Regions from separate parts of the Homo sapiens genome. Here region 2 is linked to region 1. A link means that fine-mapping ties the variant in region 1 to the expression of a gene that starts in the linked region. Tissue or cell type: cerebellar hemisphere. Region 1 holds a variant in brackets; the other region holds the start of a gene. All regions are shown on one strand. Distances are between the middles of the regions.

The links. PIP is the estimated chance that this variant, and not a neighbour inherited with it, causes the effect.
Region 2: GTF2F1 starts here. The variant in region 1 is fine-mapped to the expression of GTF2F1 in cerebellar hemisphere (GTEx, PIP 0.97).

The regions. Positions count from the first base shown.
Region 1 is chr19:6,412,753-6,420,829 of GRCh38, forward strand. It overlaps KHSRP (KH-type splicing regulatory protein), which reads right to left. Exons shown (of 19, transcript NM_001366299.1): 5 at 7,670-7,719; 6 at 7,321-7,392; 7 at 6,451-6,508; 8 at 5,950-6,124; 9 at 5,731-5,829; 10 at 5,229-5,327; 11 at 4,987-5,089; 12 at 4,235-4,335; 13 at 3,986-4,130; 14 at 3,738-3,898; 15 at 3,546-3,655; 16 at 3,056-3,144; 17 at 2,782-2,982; 18 at 2,628-2,705; 1 more. The coding sequence ends at 2,272. It overlaps MIR3940 (microRNA 3940), which reads right to left and starts at 3,759; the gene lies at 3,658-3,759. RefSeq lists an enhancer at 1-594. The variant G/GT (reference allele first, on the strand shown) is at 3,680.
Region 2 is chr19:6,388,199-6,396,277 of GRCh38, forward strand. It overlaps GTF2F1 (general transcription factor IIF subunit 1), which reads right to left and starts at 4,966. Exons shown (of 13, transcript NM_002096.3): 1 at 4,786-4,966; 2 at 4,659-4,705; 3 at 3,704-3,776; 4 at 1,246-1,439. The coding sequence starts at 4,797. It overlaps MIR6885 (microRNA 6885), which reads right to left and starts at 1,505; the gene lies at 1,440-1,505. MIR6790 (microRNA 6790) reads right to left here and starts at 4,785; the gene lies at 4,723-4,785. It also overlaps the pseudogene LOC390877.

The sequences.
Region 1 (8,077 bases):
TTGGGTGGCCCCTCGGTGCCCTCTCCCACCTCACATCCGGTCCCATCACCCAGCGAGCACTGACGCGGGCCTGGCTCCCACCTCAGGGCTCTGAACGTTAACAGGCCAGAGGACCTCCTGTAGCAACAGCCCATCCATGGGAACGCCGGTCCCTGAGGCCCTCCTGAGCGCCTTGCTCCCCAAGGTGCTGGAGGGAAACTGGGTAGGGGAAGACAGCAGTGCTGGGCTCAGCCAGCCTCCCCTTCCCACATGGGAAGGGGAAAGTCTTGGGGGGCCACACCCCACTCTAATTGGCTGAGACTTGCTCAACTTGTTTCCTCTCACAAACACAACTGCGGCCAGCACGCAGTCTTTTTTAAACAAAAAGCACTTTATTTAACAAAAAAAAAAAAGGGGGGGGGGCACGGTTAGGAAAGCACATTGAGCCTGAAGAAAACTATTTTATATTTTTCTTAAAAAAAAAAAAACACAAAGTTTGTAAATTTCAATCACCATTATCAGGCTTTTTAAACAACATCTATAAAGAACAAACATCCGCTTCAAAACTACAGGGAGGGAAGGAAAGGGGGGGAGACAGACAGCACCCGCAGACGGGGAGGTTTTGTTATCATTTATTTGTGAAGTTAAAAACGAGCGATAAAAAGTAAAAACTGCCATACAATTTTTTTTGTTGTTCTCATTTTGTTTTCAGTTTCAATCTCCTCTTGAACAGATGAAAAGACAACAGACCAGTCCTGGGAGGGGGGACGGGCGGGGCCGCGGGAGCTGAGCCAGGGCGGGAGGGAGAGAAGAGGGGGCTTGGCTGCTGGGGGAAGGGGTCCTGCAATACAACACCTGGTCCAAGGAATGTTCCACCTCTAACTAAAAAAAAGAAATAGCAAGAGTGACTTTTTTTTTTCCTTTTTAAAAGTTTATTTTAAAAACAAGAGGGCCGAGGGTGGGAGAAAATGAATTGCTTTATCCTCAGAGAGGCAGGTTCAGGAAGGCTGGGGGGTGAAGAATAGAGACTTTTTAATATATATATATATAATTTTATAAGTTCTGCTTTGCTCTTTGTGTTTTTAATTTTTAAGTTTTTTTTTTTTTTTGGCAGAGATTTAGATCTCGCTATCTTCTCTGGCTGGCTCAACATGGAAGGATCCCAATTTTGAAAGAAAAAGCATGTGAGACACAGAACAGGCGAGAGAGTGAGGGCCCGGCATGCCCCCAAGTCCCCCCCACCCTGCTTGCCGCGAGGGCTCCCCAGTACTCCCCACGGCAGCCATCGCTCTCTCGCCAAACAAAACAGAAGCCCCCAAACAGAACAAAATGGAAAAAAAAAAGATTTTTCACAGATGAAGAAGTTCACATTCATTCGATTCATTGAGCCTGCGGAGAGGGAAGAGATAGGAATTGGTCACTACGGGGAGGGAAGGGTGGGAGACTAGGGGGCGGAAGAGAGGAGGGGCTGGAACACCGTGGGGGGGGCCAGGAAGCCCCCTCCCAAACCTGCGCTGGCTCAGGCTGGAAGGACGTGCTTGTTAACTGTCTAGCCAGGTGCTCGCGGGACTCGCTGAAGTCACGCTGCTCCCTGATGGAGAAGGAGGGACAGAGCAGGAAGAGAGGAGAGGGGCCGCGGAGGGCGGAGGCGCTAGGGTCGTAGGGGAGCTGCCCTGTCTCCGGAGGGCGGTGGCTCCCGGCGCAGCACGACGACATGAACAATCCAGAGATCATGGTGTCCCCACAACACCCCTGTGAGGTAGGTTGGAAGGTGGCAACGATCTTCACGCCCACTTCACAGACAAGCCCGGGACACAGGCAAGCGCGAGCGCATGGGAGGCTGAGCCCGGCGGGGCAGGGGCCTGGGCCGCTCCCCGCGTCCCCACCAGTCCCTGCCAGAGCCAGGCCGCCTGCAACACAGTCACTTGGACACAGGAAAAAAGATCATGGGTTTAAAAAATAAAAGAATAAAAAGAACAAAAACCAAAAAAGTGATGCAGAGAAGGGGAAAAAATAGACGTTTTCTTCCCAAGTGGCCAGATTGTGAGCGAGGTGGTGGCGGCCGGGCCGGTGCCCACCGTCCGCGCTGTCTGCCTGCCCCCCGACTCCCCAGCAGTTCAGAAGTCCCGCCTGCGAGTCTCAGCGCTCCCCAGCATCACGACAGCGGCACACAGGAACAAGCAGCCGGCGCAGGGAGGCCTCTTCGTTTAACCTCTGGACCCAGCGAATGCTTCCCTGGCGGTGCGTGGGGACTCCCGGAGACCTCCGGCCACACGGCCCCCGCTGCAGGCATCAAGGGCACACCCCGCAGGGGAAGGGGTTTCCGGCGCTACCCACTAAGGCAGGATGGACGGTGGCCGGGGGTTGGAAGGAGAAAGGAGGAGGAGGAGGGTGGCAATTCCCACTTGCCTGCTGCTGTCCCTGCTGCGTGGGCGGCGGCTGGGGGCCGCCAGGACCTGGGGTCTGTCCGTAGTAAGCGGCCTGCTGTCTGTAATATTCCGCCCAGGCGGCACTGTAGTCTGGCTGGGAGCCTGGGGGAGCTCCTGGACCCCCTCCGGTGGCCACTTGCGCTGTGGGTGGACAAAGGCAGGTGAGAGGCTGTGGGTGAGGGCTGCCCCTGCCCCTGTCCCCGCATGGTGGCCACTCACCTTGCTTCTTGTAGTACTCCTCCCAAGCCTTCGTGTAGTCCTGCTGTGGGGGTGCTCCGGGCTGCTGGGGCTGCTGGCCTGTGCGGGCGCCGAGACAGGTCAGAAACCACTCCCCCGGCAGGGCTGGAGCCCCCCCGCCACCCTGCAGACTCACCGATCTTTTTGTAATACTCTTCCCAGGCCTTAGTGTAGTCCGACTGGCCGGTGGGTGGGGGCTGAGGGGGCTCACCCTGAGCCGGTGGGGCCGCAGGGGCCGGTGCGGGGCCGGGGACGGGGCCCGGGGGCTGCTGGTAGTAGTGTGAGTAGTAGGCGGCCCACGCGGCGTTGGGGTCCGCGGCCGCTGCAGCTGCTTTGCCTGCAGGAGATACCTCGGGTGAGACGGGGGGACAGAACAGGGCCTGCCCTCCGCCAGGTGGCCCATCACTTACTTGGGTCATGAGGAGCAGGCGGCTGCCACTGGGGGTAGGTATTGCCCCAGCCCTGGGGTGGGTACTGGTGAGGAGGGGGCCCCCCGGCACTGCAGGAGAGAAGAAAGGGATGCTTGAGCAGTGGTGCGGGGGTGGCCGCAGCCGGACCACCTGGGGTGGGGATGTTTTTCAGTGGGGAGGCGCCAGAGACCCAGACCACCAGGCTCAACGGGGCGCCTGGGAAAGGCCTAGACAAGAAGCAACTCGAAGGACGCGCAGCGTCAGCTTGAGGACATGAAAGAAGCCGCGAAACTTGCACGTGCACAGAGGGATGCTGAAAGGCACATGCTCTACCAGTAGACAGGAGAGGGCCTGTTGATGGTATCCACAAAAATGGGCTGGATGAGGCCCCCCGCCTGCACTTCTAGGGAAAGGGAAATGGGGTCTGCTATTCTTCTTGCCAGCTCAGTAAGCCCCCGGCCTCAAAACCCAGGAGGCAGAGGATACTCACTGTGGGGGAGCCCCGGGTGGCCCCTGGTTGAAGGGCCCAGGATTGAAGGGCCCCATTGGGCCAGCAGGGCCTGGGCCACCTGGGCCTGGTCCAACTGGGCAGAGAGGACCCTAGAAGGAAGGAGAGTAACCAAG[G/GT]TAAGTGGGCTGGGATCCGGGCTGTGAGACCAAATCCCCAGAGCCCGCCCCAACCCACCTCGATCTTTTCCTCGATAAGCTGCTTGGCGTGGTCAATCTGCTGGGGTGAACCCCGGATGATGAACAACTTGAAGTTGGGGTCCCCGTTGGGTGGCAGCTGCCGGGAGATCTCTACGAAGGCTCCCGTCTGCTGGTTTATGGCTTTCACATTCTCGCCACCTGCAGAAACGCAGAAGGTGAAGGTGGCCTGCAGTGATGGCCCAGGGAAGAGGGGGCAAGGGATAGGGTGCAGGGGGCCACACTCACCTCGGCCGATGACCAGCCCACACTTGTGAGTGGGGATGGAGAAGGTCATCTCCCCGCCAGGGGGACCCCAATTGCCTTGGCCTCTTCCTCGGCCTCGGCCCCCCGGGGGCATGCCTGGACCCCCTGGAGGACCTGGGGGACCACTCTGCAAGACAAGAGGAGGAGGAGGATGATGAACCCTGGAAGCCGGTCTGGTCTTGCACTCCCCTGGAGGCCCTGCCAGCCCCTTCAGCACCCGGGGCCACCTACCCTGAGGCTCTGGAGGAGGTCGTTGATGATCCGGGCTGCGTGCTCGCACCTGTCTGGGGGCCCCATTATATGAGCAATCTTCTCGGGCCCTGTCCCGTCATCTGAGGCCAGCACCGAGAGAGCAGAGACACAAGTTTAAAAGAAGAGCCCACCCCAGAGCCCTGCAACGCCGCCTCCAGCGCAGACACCACGCCGGCCTGAGATCTCAGACGCGCTGCGCCGCTCCCAGCCTCCACTCGCTCAGGGATTGAGGGGGAGGCGGCCCACATTCCCAGAGAAGGAAACCCACGGCCAAGCCAGGAGGTGGCTCAAGCTTCTTCCAGCACACAGCACCCCCAGCACTGAGAGATTTTACAGAACAATAAATCTCTGAAAAGCCAGAGGGGCCCTTCTCCCCACGGCAGGCAGCTCAGAGACTGCCTGAGGACTGGCAAGAGCCCAGAGCTGAGGTGGAGTGCCCTGATCCAGCCTGCGGGGCACCCAGGGCTGTCCTGTCAGGATAGGCTCCATCGTAGGGGGAGGAAGAGGAGATCTGATAGGGATAGGAACACACGTTCCCCCTGGATGTGGAAAGCCCTCATGTGTCTGTCCCAGAGAAGAGAAGGGACTGGCCATGTTCTGACGGCTGGACTAAGAGCCGTGAGGTGCTATGGAGGCCACCTGGCTGACCACGGTGCCCAGCTCCCTCAGAGCCTGCCTCCCAAAGAGGGTGGGGGTGCACTGGCCAGGGGCAGGGTGGGCCAGGCCCTGACCTTGCTTGAACTGTATCCGCACGCCAGCATCATTCTGGATCTTCTTGATCATCTCTCCACTCCGGCCAATGACCACGCCAACAGAATGCCTGGGCACTGGCACCTGGGGAGGGAGGCAGCAGCGTCAGCTCGGCCCGCAGCTCTGCTGCCCTCTGCTGCCCACTGGCCACAAGGAGCCACTCACCCCGGCCCCTCCCTCCACTGGCGGGGGAGAGGGGGGTGAAGGCAGGGCCCACACTCACATCGATGCCTCCGCCAATCCGAGATCCGTACTCATTCCGGTCCCCAAAGCCGCCTTGGTCACGTTCCCGGAGGATGTCCATCACCATCTCACAGGCTTGCTGCAAACACACAGGAAGCAGCCCCCATGGGTGAGCCCTGCTGCCCCACACCCCCCCACCTCCTCGGGGGTGCGGGCCTCAACTAAGGACCCACGAACCCTGGGTGAGCCCAGCACAGCACCCTACTGAGCTCTCTACCTGCCACTTTAATGGGGAGGCACTACCAGCAGCCCCGTTTCCAGATAAAAAAGCAGAAGGTCAGAGGTGAGGCCGGTGCCTCACACACACAAAGCTGGGAGTCAGTTCAGGGCCATCCTACGAGCCAGCGCTCTTGCAAGCCTCTTGGTGTTATGACCGACTGTTCACATATCTCTCTGGCGGAATGCAGACCCCGAGACCGCTGGCCCTGCCCACCTGCCCGTGCCTCTCCAGAACCCCCTCCACCACCCCAGGGCGTGCTCACCTGCACTTTGTAAGGATCCCCAATGATGCGGAGAGGTTTGTCCACATTCGTATTCTGAGATCCGTCCTGAATTAAGATCATCTTCACTCCAGCGCGTTCCTTTACAAGCAAGGTTAACCGTTAGTGCTGGGCTCTCCCAGGACTTCCTGGGCTGCTGTGGTGGTGGCGGTGGGGTGTGGCACACGGATGCAGAGGAAGCTGCCCAGGTGCTGCCCTCACCTGCAGCTGCTTAATGGTCTCCCCGCCCTTGCCAATGACCAGGCCGGCCTTGCCCGCGGGGATCATGATCTCCTGCACGGTGCCGTTCTGGCCCCCGTTGGCGTTGTCGTGGAACTGTCCTGGGGGGCCCCCACGACCCCGAGACACAATGTCATCCAGCATCATCTTGGCTTTCCTGGGAAGGGGAGGAGCGGGGGATGAGCGGGTGCCACCGCTGGAGAAAGGTACTGGTCTGGTGGCCCACCCAGCTCAAAGGGAAGGCGACCCCAGAGTGTGCAAGGATGACAGGGAAGAGGGGCCAGTCACAGGGGCTGTTCAGGCTCCAGGTTCCCCAGGTCTTGGGCTGCCGGGGAATCAGCCTCATGTTAACATGGCTGTCTGGAGATGGGGGCAAGAATGGAGGACATGGCGTGCAAGTTGCTCCCAACTTTCAATTCAAACGGACAGAGCAGGCTTCTGCCTGCCCCCCACATCACAATGAGAGGCCCTGTGGGGACTTACTGGACAGATTCTGGGGCTCCTGTCAAGGACACACTGCGCTCGGGTAGGCCACCGCTGTCTGAAAAGAGGAGATAGAGTCAGTGCCCTCCCTGGCCCACAGGCAGAGAAAGGCCTGCCTTGGACACGAGGAAACTTTCAGAACAACCAAGGGCCACTTCTGTCCCATTCAGTGCCTGACAGATCAGTTTACTTCCCCTAAACACCTGGGAGGCTGCTCGATGCAAGGCCAAGGTTGGGAAGAGATCCCAGAAGGGAGGTAGGACTTTAAGGGAAAAGGATGAGGTGGAGGGAGTTGCAGATTCCAGAAGGTCCAGGAGCCGGCCACCCCCACTACCAATGATGACCAGAGCCGCTTCTATAGACAACACGTGCTACACGCCCAAGGAAGCCTCAGAACCCCCTACCCAGCAGGCTTTCTGTAGCTCAGGACTCTGAGATTCGAAAGGTAACTACATTGCCTGAGAGCAGATGTGCAGCCAGAACCGGGATTTGCTCCTGGGCCTGACCTCAGAGTGACCCCTCTGTCCAAGGCACCACCCTGTCTCACGCAGTCTTGCCGGGGTGCTTTCACCCACGCGGCAGGTCAGTGCAGTGCGTCGAAGCTCGGTGTCTGGAACCAGGCCCCTGTGCGAAATGCTAGCCCTGCCACCTCAGTCCATACCCACCCACTGAAAATAAAAAAAGTCACAGCTGTGCCCCGTGGGCAGTACTAGTGGAGTGAGATACTGCACTGAGCCTGGTCCGTAGTAAGCACCAACAAGCGCCAGCTCGCTTCCTGTCCACAGTCCCCGTGGAAATTAAGTAATTAAAGGAAAGTGCAAAGGGCCCAACCCTGGCCCCCACTCTGGCAGGAACCTGACGCTCTTATACCTGGAGAAATCTGTACTTTGCAGCCTGAATCCTGTTGGATTTTGTTAATTTGTTCACCTCCTCTGCCAATGACTGGATGGAGAAAGAAGGAGAAAAGCAAAGCGTGATGAGGGAAGGGAGCCCAGGCCTCAGGAGACTGTGTGGCCGGGGCCCCAGCCCCTCTGACGTTCAGGAGGGCAGCAGTCCTCTAGAGAGCTCCTGTCCTCTGCCCAGAGGGGACGAAGGAGGGACAAATGAGAACAGCACATAGGAGCCCTCTCAGACCAGGGCTTCTGGGCTGGCAGGAGCTCACAGGACACTTCCTCCTGGGGAAGAGTGGGCCTCCCCACCCAAGGTGACCCACACTCACTCAGGCCCACCATGCCGTCTGGGACCCTGTACTCTTCTGTCATTGAAGTCCTGTAAAGAGACACGCCAAAGGTCAGTCCTCAAGTGGGAAGGGAGGAGGACAGCAGCTCTGGAAGGTCTACTTGAAGCCAAGGCCACCATAGGTCTAAGCAGAGTCTGACCACACAGGCCACAAAACTGCCAAGGCCTCAGTTTCCCCATCTGTGCCCCGAGAGGCTTGCTCTGGGCATTGTGGGCCTTGGCCTGGTGCCGTCCCATTGATTCAGGGCGAGAGGGAGCACTGAGTAGCAAGCTGACAGTCACTCTATGTCTCTCAGTTCTAAAAAGCTGGCTGTATGTCCTTTTCATCTTATTTTCCTAGTATTTTATGAAACTACTGGCCCATTAAAAACAAACAAACAAAAAATGA
Region 2 (8,079 bases), 25 kb before region 1:
GGATTACAGGCGTGAGCCACCGCGCCCAGCCATGGCATGGCCAAATCTGAAGTGGACACCTGGCCCGGGCCACCATTTCCTCAAGCCTAAACAACTGCCCAGCCTCCTTGAGGCCTCTACCTCATTCTTTTCTACCCCAAAGTTCCGGACAGTCTGGGTGAGTGCCTCTTCCCTGCCTACAGCTTTCCAAGGCTCCGCTGGACCCAGCACATCCTGGCACCCACTGCCCTGTGTGAGCTGCCTGTGTCTGTCACTATCACCCAACTGCTGTGCCTGGAGCACCCTTCATCAACCTAACCTGGACCCCTCCTGTTCTGCCCTCAGTCTGCCCCCTCTGAGAGGTCATCTCAAGTGTCATGAGCTCCCAGGGCTGGCCACCTAAGCTTCCTGCATTGTGGCACTCAGAGCTGCCTCAGAGCCAGGCACAAGCACCAACTCAGTGAACTGTCTTCAAAAACACAACCCCAGGGCCTGGGCAGTGGCTCATACCTATAATCCCAGCACTTTGGGAGACCAAGGTAGGAGGATCACTTGACCCCAGGAGTTCAAGACCAGCTTGAGCAACGCAGCAAGACCCCATCTCTACCAAAAATACAAAAATTAGCCAGGCATGGTGGGGCGTGCCTATAGTCCCAGCTACTCAGGATGCTGAGGTGGGAAGATCTCGAGCCCAGGAGTTGGAGCCTGCAGTGAGCTACGATCGCACCACTGCACTCCAGCCTGGGCAACGGAGTGAGACCCTGTCTCAAAATAAATAAGTAGGCTGGGCACGGTGGCTCACGCCTGTAATCCCAGCACTACGGGAGGCCGAGGCGGGAGGATCGCCAAGTTCGAGACCAGCCTGACCAATATGGTGAAACCCTGTCTCTACTAAAAATACAAAAATTAGCTGGGCGTGGTGGTGGCAGGCACCTGTAATCCCAGCTACTCAGGAGGCTCAGGCAGGAGAATAACTTGAACCTGGGAGGTGTGGGTTGCAGTGAGCCAAGATCGTGCTACTGCACTCCAGCCTGGGCGACAGAGCAAGACTCTGTCTCAAAAAAATACAAGTAAGTAAAATAAGATAACATAAATAAATAAATAAATAAATAAATAATAAAATCCTACAGGGATGGAAGTGCCAGCACTTCCACTGCAGCAGTGGGAATCTGAGGTTCAGAGAGGGTACCCCACAAAGTATGTAAGTTGAGGCCTGGGGATGTGGACTGGTCACTAAGCCGGCACCGCCACCGCCCCACCACTTACTTCCTGCCTGATTTGCCGTTGACCCGGAGCAGCCAGGGCTGGTCCTCGGGCCGGAACTCCTTGAGGACGATGCCGTACTTCTTCCTCCGAGCCTCCTCCCGAAGCTTGCGGTTGAACTCACTGCCCGCGCCCGATTCGGGCATCTCCTCCTCTTGGTAGATTTTCTTGTTGCTCAAGTCCCGCTCCAGCCGAGCCTAGGGGAGCAGGAAGCAAAGCCTCTCAGGGTCCCTGGCTTTGCTTGCGCAGTGCCCCCCTCCAGGAACGCCCTTCCTTGCCCTAGGCCAAGCTCTAGATTCTCAAAACCAACTTACCACTTGGCAACAAGGGAGGAGAACGGTAGCCTTTGACAAATCTGGGTAAAGGGAATTTGGGCGAGCCTTGCGCTCTATTTTTGCAACTTAAAAGCTTGAAATTATTTCCAAATTAAAATTAAAGAGAAAAAGACCACCTGGTGACCATCAAGCAGGCCATCGGAGGCAAAATTCCTTATCTGAGGAATGTAGAAGTAATTAATTAGACTTCCCTATTATCTACAGCAGGCATCTGGTTCCAGGATTCTTTTCAAAAAATGTCTAAGTACCTAGAATTTCCACACATCTCTCCAGAATGCATGCATATCGAAACTCATTGTGCTGTGGCTCACACCTGTAATCCCAGAACTTTGGGAGGCCAAGGCAGAAGGATCACTTGAGCTCAGGAGTTTAAGACCAGCCTGGCATCAGAATGGCTTGAACCTGGGAGGCGGAGGTTGCAGTGAGCCGAGATCATGCCACTGCACTCCAGCCTGGGTGATAGAGTGACACTCTGTCTTAAGAAAAAAAAGGCCAGGCGCGGTGGCTCACGCCTGTAATCCCAGCACTTCGGGAGGCCAAGGCAGGTGGATCACGAGGTCAGGAGATTGAGACCATCCTGGCTAACACGGTGAAACCCCGTCTCTACTAAAAATACAAAAAATAAGCCGGGCATGATGGCAGGCGCCTATAATCCCAGCTACTTGGGAGGCTGAGGCAGGAGAATGGCGTGAACCCGGGAGGCGGAGCTTGCAGTGAGCCGAGATCCTGGCGCTGCACTCCAGTCTGGGCGACAAAGCAAGACTCAGTCCCCAAAAAAAAAAAAAAAAAAAAAAAAGACCAGCCTGGGCAACATAGTGAGATCCTATATCTATTTCCTAAAAATAAAAAGGCTGGGCATGGTGGAAGGCTGAGGCGGGTGGATCACTTGAGGTCAGGAGTTCAAGACCAGCCTGACCAACATGGCGAAACTTCGTCTCTACTAAAAATACAAAAATTAGCTAGGCGTGGTGGTGGGCGCCTGTAATCCCAGCTACTTGGGAGGCTGAGGCAGGAGAATGGCTTGAACCTGGGAGGTGGAGGTTGCAGTGAGCCCAGGTCGCGCCACTGCACTCCAGCCTGGATGACAAGAGACTCCATCACAAAAAAATAAAATAAAATAAATAAAAAGAAACTCATTGTGCAACACTTGCTGACATTAAGGCACCAAAATCTCTACAAATTAACAATTTATCGTGACCTACATGGCTAATGTGATCCGAATTACCCTTAAGCTCTTGATTTAAGGTCCATATATACCATTTCCAAAACACTCTAGAATCAGCCACATCTCATAACCTCCACTGCCTCCAGTGCCCTGCCAGGACTCACCTAGACCAGTCCAGTTGCTTCTACCTTGGTCTCCGTTTATTTGCCCTCAAACCCACAGTTTGTCTCCCCATAGCAGCCAGATCACACACACTACAACTTCCCAATTGAAGATGCTTTAATGGCTCCCAAAGTCCTTTCTAGAGCCTCTGATGGCAGGGGCTCTGGGAAAGCCCCCAGCCCAGTCCCCTCCCTTGCCCAGATAAACCATGGCCAAAAATGTCCAACAGTGGGCACAGCTTCTAAATGTTCTCCTTTAAGGAGAGGCCTCTGGTGGGCCTACCAAACCTAACTTACAGGGACACCCAGGAGCTAGGCCTGGGCCTTTGCCATTTCCGTTTTTTTTTTTTTTTTTTTTTTTTTTTTTTTGAGGCAGGGTCTTGCTCTGTTATCCAGGCTGGAGTGCAGTCGTACAATCATAGCTCACTGCAGCCTTGAACCCCTGGGCTCAAGCGATCCTCCTACCTCAGCCTCCTATGTAGGACTACAGACCCACGCTATCAGCCCCAACTAACTTTTTAATTTTTTTGTAGAGTTGGGGTCTTGCTATTGTATTGCCCAGGCTGGTCTCAAACTCCTGGCCTTAAGCAAGCTTCCTGCCTCAGCCTCCCAAAGTGCTGGGATTACAGGTGTGAACTACTGCACCCAACCCTTTGTCATCTATCTTTTCTTCACTTGGAGAAAAGTGAGAAAATTAAGACTTAGTGACTATGACAGTTAAGCAACTATCACAACCACCAAGGTCAGGGTCAAGTTCTCTCACCACCCCAGCCCCTGACCCCCAGGACTCAGAGACTTACCTGATTCCACGTAGCAAAGTTGACTTTGTCGGCTGCATTAAAAGCCATGATGTTATATTTTTTGGTTGTATTCCTGGAGTGGATGAGAAGAGGTAGTGTCAATCCAATACAGCAATTCAATCATTAATTTAATCAGTCAATGCTATTGAACCATTAATTCAATCAACCACCCAACTGGATCGTTAATTCAATCAAATCATTACTTTAATTCAATCACTCAATTCAATTGAACCATTAATTCAATTCAATCATTCCATTCAATTGAATCATTAATTCAATTCAATTCACTCAACAAACCCACCCAGCTTCATTCAGCCTGTTTTGCCTGGCAACACTGGATACGGAAGACTCCAAGGATTCCCAGTCTGCCAGAGAAGCTAGACCCATCCTCTCCTGACCCCAGGCAGAAGAAGAGCAGATGGAGGGACGAAGATTTGGGGGAACCCAAGATGTGGAGATTATTGTGAACTCAGCCTTGGGGAGGAGGGAGGACAGGCAGGGAGTATTTCCTGGAGGAGGAAGATACTGGAGTTGAGTTTTGCAGAATCATCAAGAATTCACCCAGCAGAGTCACAGTTTAGGGGTTGAGGGGAGGCACTCATGGCAGAGGAACAGGATGTACAAAGGCCTGGAAAGGAAAGACAGCCTGACCACTTTGAAACAGGACGAGGAATATGTCCTTACAGCTGGCCTGGGCATCATGGGACCATATACTCCTCGAAGGTTAGGCCAGGGGGCTGGATCACCGTGTATTAATGCACTCATTCATTCATTCGTTCAAAAAAGCAGTGTTGTCCCCAGAGAAGCCTCAGCTTAATCCCAGCCCTGCCCTCCAAGTCTCTCCCGGTCTGGAGGGAGAACCACAGACAGGGCCAGAAATGGCTGGCTAAGAAGATCGTGAAGGTTTTCATTTTTGGGGGGTGGAGAGGAGTGGGAGATGGGGCTGGGGACTTACTTAGGAACTCGAACGACGTATTCAGTGACATTCTGGCTGCTAGGGCCCTGCGGAAAGAGGAAGCGGTGAGTGAGGGGTCGCCGAGGTCGCCGTCGGAACCCCCGAACCCCGCCAAATCCACACTCACTAGGGCCGCCATGGGCAATGGTCAGTGGTTCCGATCTGGTCCGACCCGGGTTCCTTTCGTCTCCTCTGGCGTGCGCGTCCCTCGATCCCGGGGAAGCCGCCGCTCGGTGTCGGGTCTCTGTGCCTGAGCGAGGACCCCAACCCTAGGCGCCTCTGGCGCTGGGAAAAGGTAACCGGAAGAGGCGCTCAAGCTACTCGGTCTACGCTTCTGCGGCCGCCTAACCCGGAAGCGAAACCCTCGAGCAGCCGCGTCGCGATGGCAACCTTCTTAGCGACTGTGGCCACCTCAGTGCGCAGTCACTTATGCTCCTCGGCGGCTATGGTCACCTCAAAAGGTCCACCGCGGTCCCTTTTTAGACTCAGCAAACCTAGGCCGAGTCTGAGATAAACTAACGGGCCTCTGTCGCTGGCGCTCTTGTATATAACGCGGTTAACTTCATCAAATGGGGGACCGCCCTCTCTCGTGACGTCAGCACCCAAGGACCGTGGGGCATCCTGGGTGGGAAGAGGGAGACGAATCCCCCTTGCGGGCTCCCAGGCACTTTGCGCATGCGCCTTGCCGCTCTGGACCTGGGGGGCCCAGAAGGCCGCGTCACCATAGCAACCGAGGCCTACTCGGGTCGGGTCGAACCGCCGCTTGGCTCCCCATGGGTCTGTTTGGGGTTCATTTCCTCCCCCTACCCCGAAGGGGTGGACCCCGTCATTCCCGCAAAATGACCGGGGCGGGGACCCTTGTGACGTTGAGCCGAGCCAGGAGGGGTCAGAGCCTGGGCGGGGTCGGGGCGCGACCACCCCAAGAGCTGCTGGCCGGATGGGTCTTTGCAAGTCCAAGCTGCCCGAGATGGGCAGGGCTCTGAGGCCCCAGGAGAAGGGTAACGTCGCGGGGGCGGCTGGCTGGCTTCCTGGGGGGAAGGGAAGGAAGCTGCCGAGAACAGGAGGGAGATGCAGGATCCCCTACCCCGTTCCAGGCATGCACACATCCCCCGAATCATGGCAGTAACACAACTGCGCATGCTCACGGCGCAACCATTCATTGCTCCACTTCGCAAATACTCCAGCACCTCCTGGGTTCGGGGCCCCGCAAGGTGAATCTGTCAAACCAGCTCCCCACGGAGGATTACAGTGTCCTCTCGAGGGTTACAGTGTCGTGGAAGAGACAGAGTCACAGCATGGGAATCTACAACCCAGGAAGGAGCAGGAGAAGCACAGCGGGGCTCTGAGGGCTCAGAGAAGAGGGGAGGTTTCAGTTGGGCACTGAGGGATGCATAGGAGTTGGCTAAGCAAAGGGAAGGCGGGCAAGACACAAAAGTTGGGCCATGAACTACAGACACCGTCGATGTGTCTGTTTTCATTTATTTCTCATCCACCACTAAATGTCAGGAACCGCCAACCCCTAGGAATATAGGAATGAGGGAGGCAGAAATAGTCCTTGCCCTCATGGAGTGTCTGGCTTGGGGGAGACAAGAACGAGTAAACGGCTGGGCACGGTGGCTCATGCCTGTAATCCCAGCACTTTGGGAGGCCGAGGCGGGCGGATCACCTGAGGTTGAGAGTTCGAGACCAGCCTGACCAACGTGGAGAAACCCCGTCTCTACTAAAAATACAAGATTAGCCGGGCGTGGTAGCACATGCCTGTAATCCCAGCTACTCGGGAGGCTGAGACAGGAGAATCGCTTGAACCTGGGAGGCAGAGGTTGTGGTGAGCCGAGATCGCGCCATTGCCCTCCAGTCTGGGCAACAAGAGCGAAACTCCGTCTCAAAAAAAAAAAAAAAAAAAAAAGAAGGAAAAGAAGGAAAAAAAAAGAACGAGTAAACAGAGAAGATCATGACAGACTGTGGCCATTGCTGTGGAGGAAATAGGTGTCTCAGACAAGGAGTGATGGGGGGAAGCTCTAGATGGAGGCTAGAGAAGGCCAGATGGAAGTTGTGGCCAGAAGGAACTGGGGCAGGCAGGGATTTTCCAAGCAGAGGAAACAGCAAGGGAGAAGTGAGTTTCAAATTCAAAGAACTGAAGCCCCCTGGGGCTGGGACAAAGAGAAGGGGAGTATGGGTTGGGGCTGGGACAGAGGGAAGGGGAGTAGGATATGGGGCTGGAACAGAGAGAAGGGGAGTATGGGATGAGACTGGGAGCGTGGGCAAGTCCCTGCCTCTCACTGAACCTCGGTTCCCTCCACTGTAAAATGGGATGATAGAGTCCTCAGGATGCTTTAAGGAGATGCCGTGTGTGAAGGGCCTGGCCTGCTCAAGTTCACGTCTTTGTTTTTTTTTATTTTATTTTTTTGAGACGGAGTCTCGCTCTGTCGCCCAGGCTAGAGTGCAGTGGCACGATCTCGGCTCACTGCAAGCTCTGCCTCCCGGGTTCACGCCATTCTCCTTCCTCAGCCTCCCAAGTAGCTAGGCCTACAGGTGCCCATCACCACGCCCAGCTAATTTTTTGTATTTTTAATAGAGACAGGTTTTCACCGTGTTACCCAAGATGGTCTCGATCTCCTGACCTGAAGTGATCTGCCCACCTCGGCCTCCCAAAGTGCTAGGATTACAGTGCTAGGCATGAGCCCACCGCACCTGGCCACATCATTTTTTTTTTTAAATGGAGTCTTGCTTTGTTGCCCAGTCTGGAGTGCAGTGGCACAATCTCGGCTCACTGCAACCTTTGGCTCCTGGGTTCAAGCGATTCTCCTGCTTCAGCCTCACGAATAGGTGTGCACCACCACACCCAGCTAATTTTTTTTGTATTTTTAGTAGTGATGGGGTTTCACCCTGTTGGCCAGGCTGGTCTCAAACTCCTGACATCAAGGGATCCACCCGCCTCGGCCTCCCAAAGTGCAGGGATTATAGGCGTGAGCCACCACACCTGGCCTCAAGTTCACATCTTCATCCAAAGCGGCACAAACACACAACGTGCCTGGCTATGCCCTTGAGAACAGAACCATACCCCTAAGAGGCCGGGCGCGGTGGCTCACGCCTGTAATCCCAGCACTTTGGGAGGCCGAGGCGGGCAGATCATGAGGTCAGGAGATCGAGACCATCCTGGCTAACATGGTGAAACCCCGTCTCTGCTAAAAACACAAAGAAAATTAGCCGGGCGCGGTGGCGGGTGCCTGTAGTCCCAGCTACTCAGGAGGCTGAGGCAGGAGAATGGCATGAACCCGGGAGGCGGAGCTTGCAGTGAGCCGAGATAGCGCCATTGCACTCCAGCCTGGGCGACAGAGCAAGACTCTGCCTCAAAAAAAAAAAAAAAAAAAAAAAGAACCATACCCCTAAGATGCCACCCTACAGCAAGAGTATGCCAAGA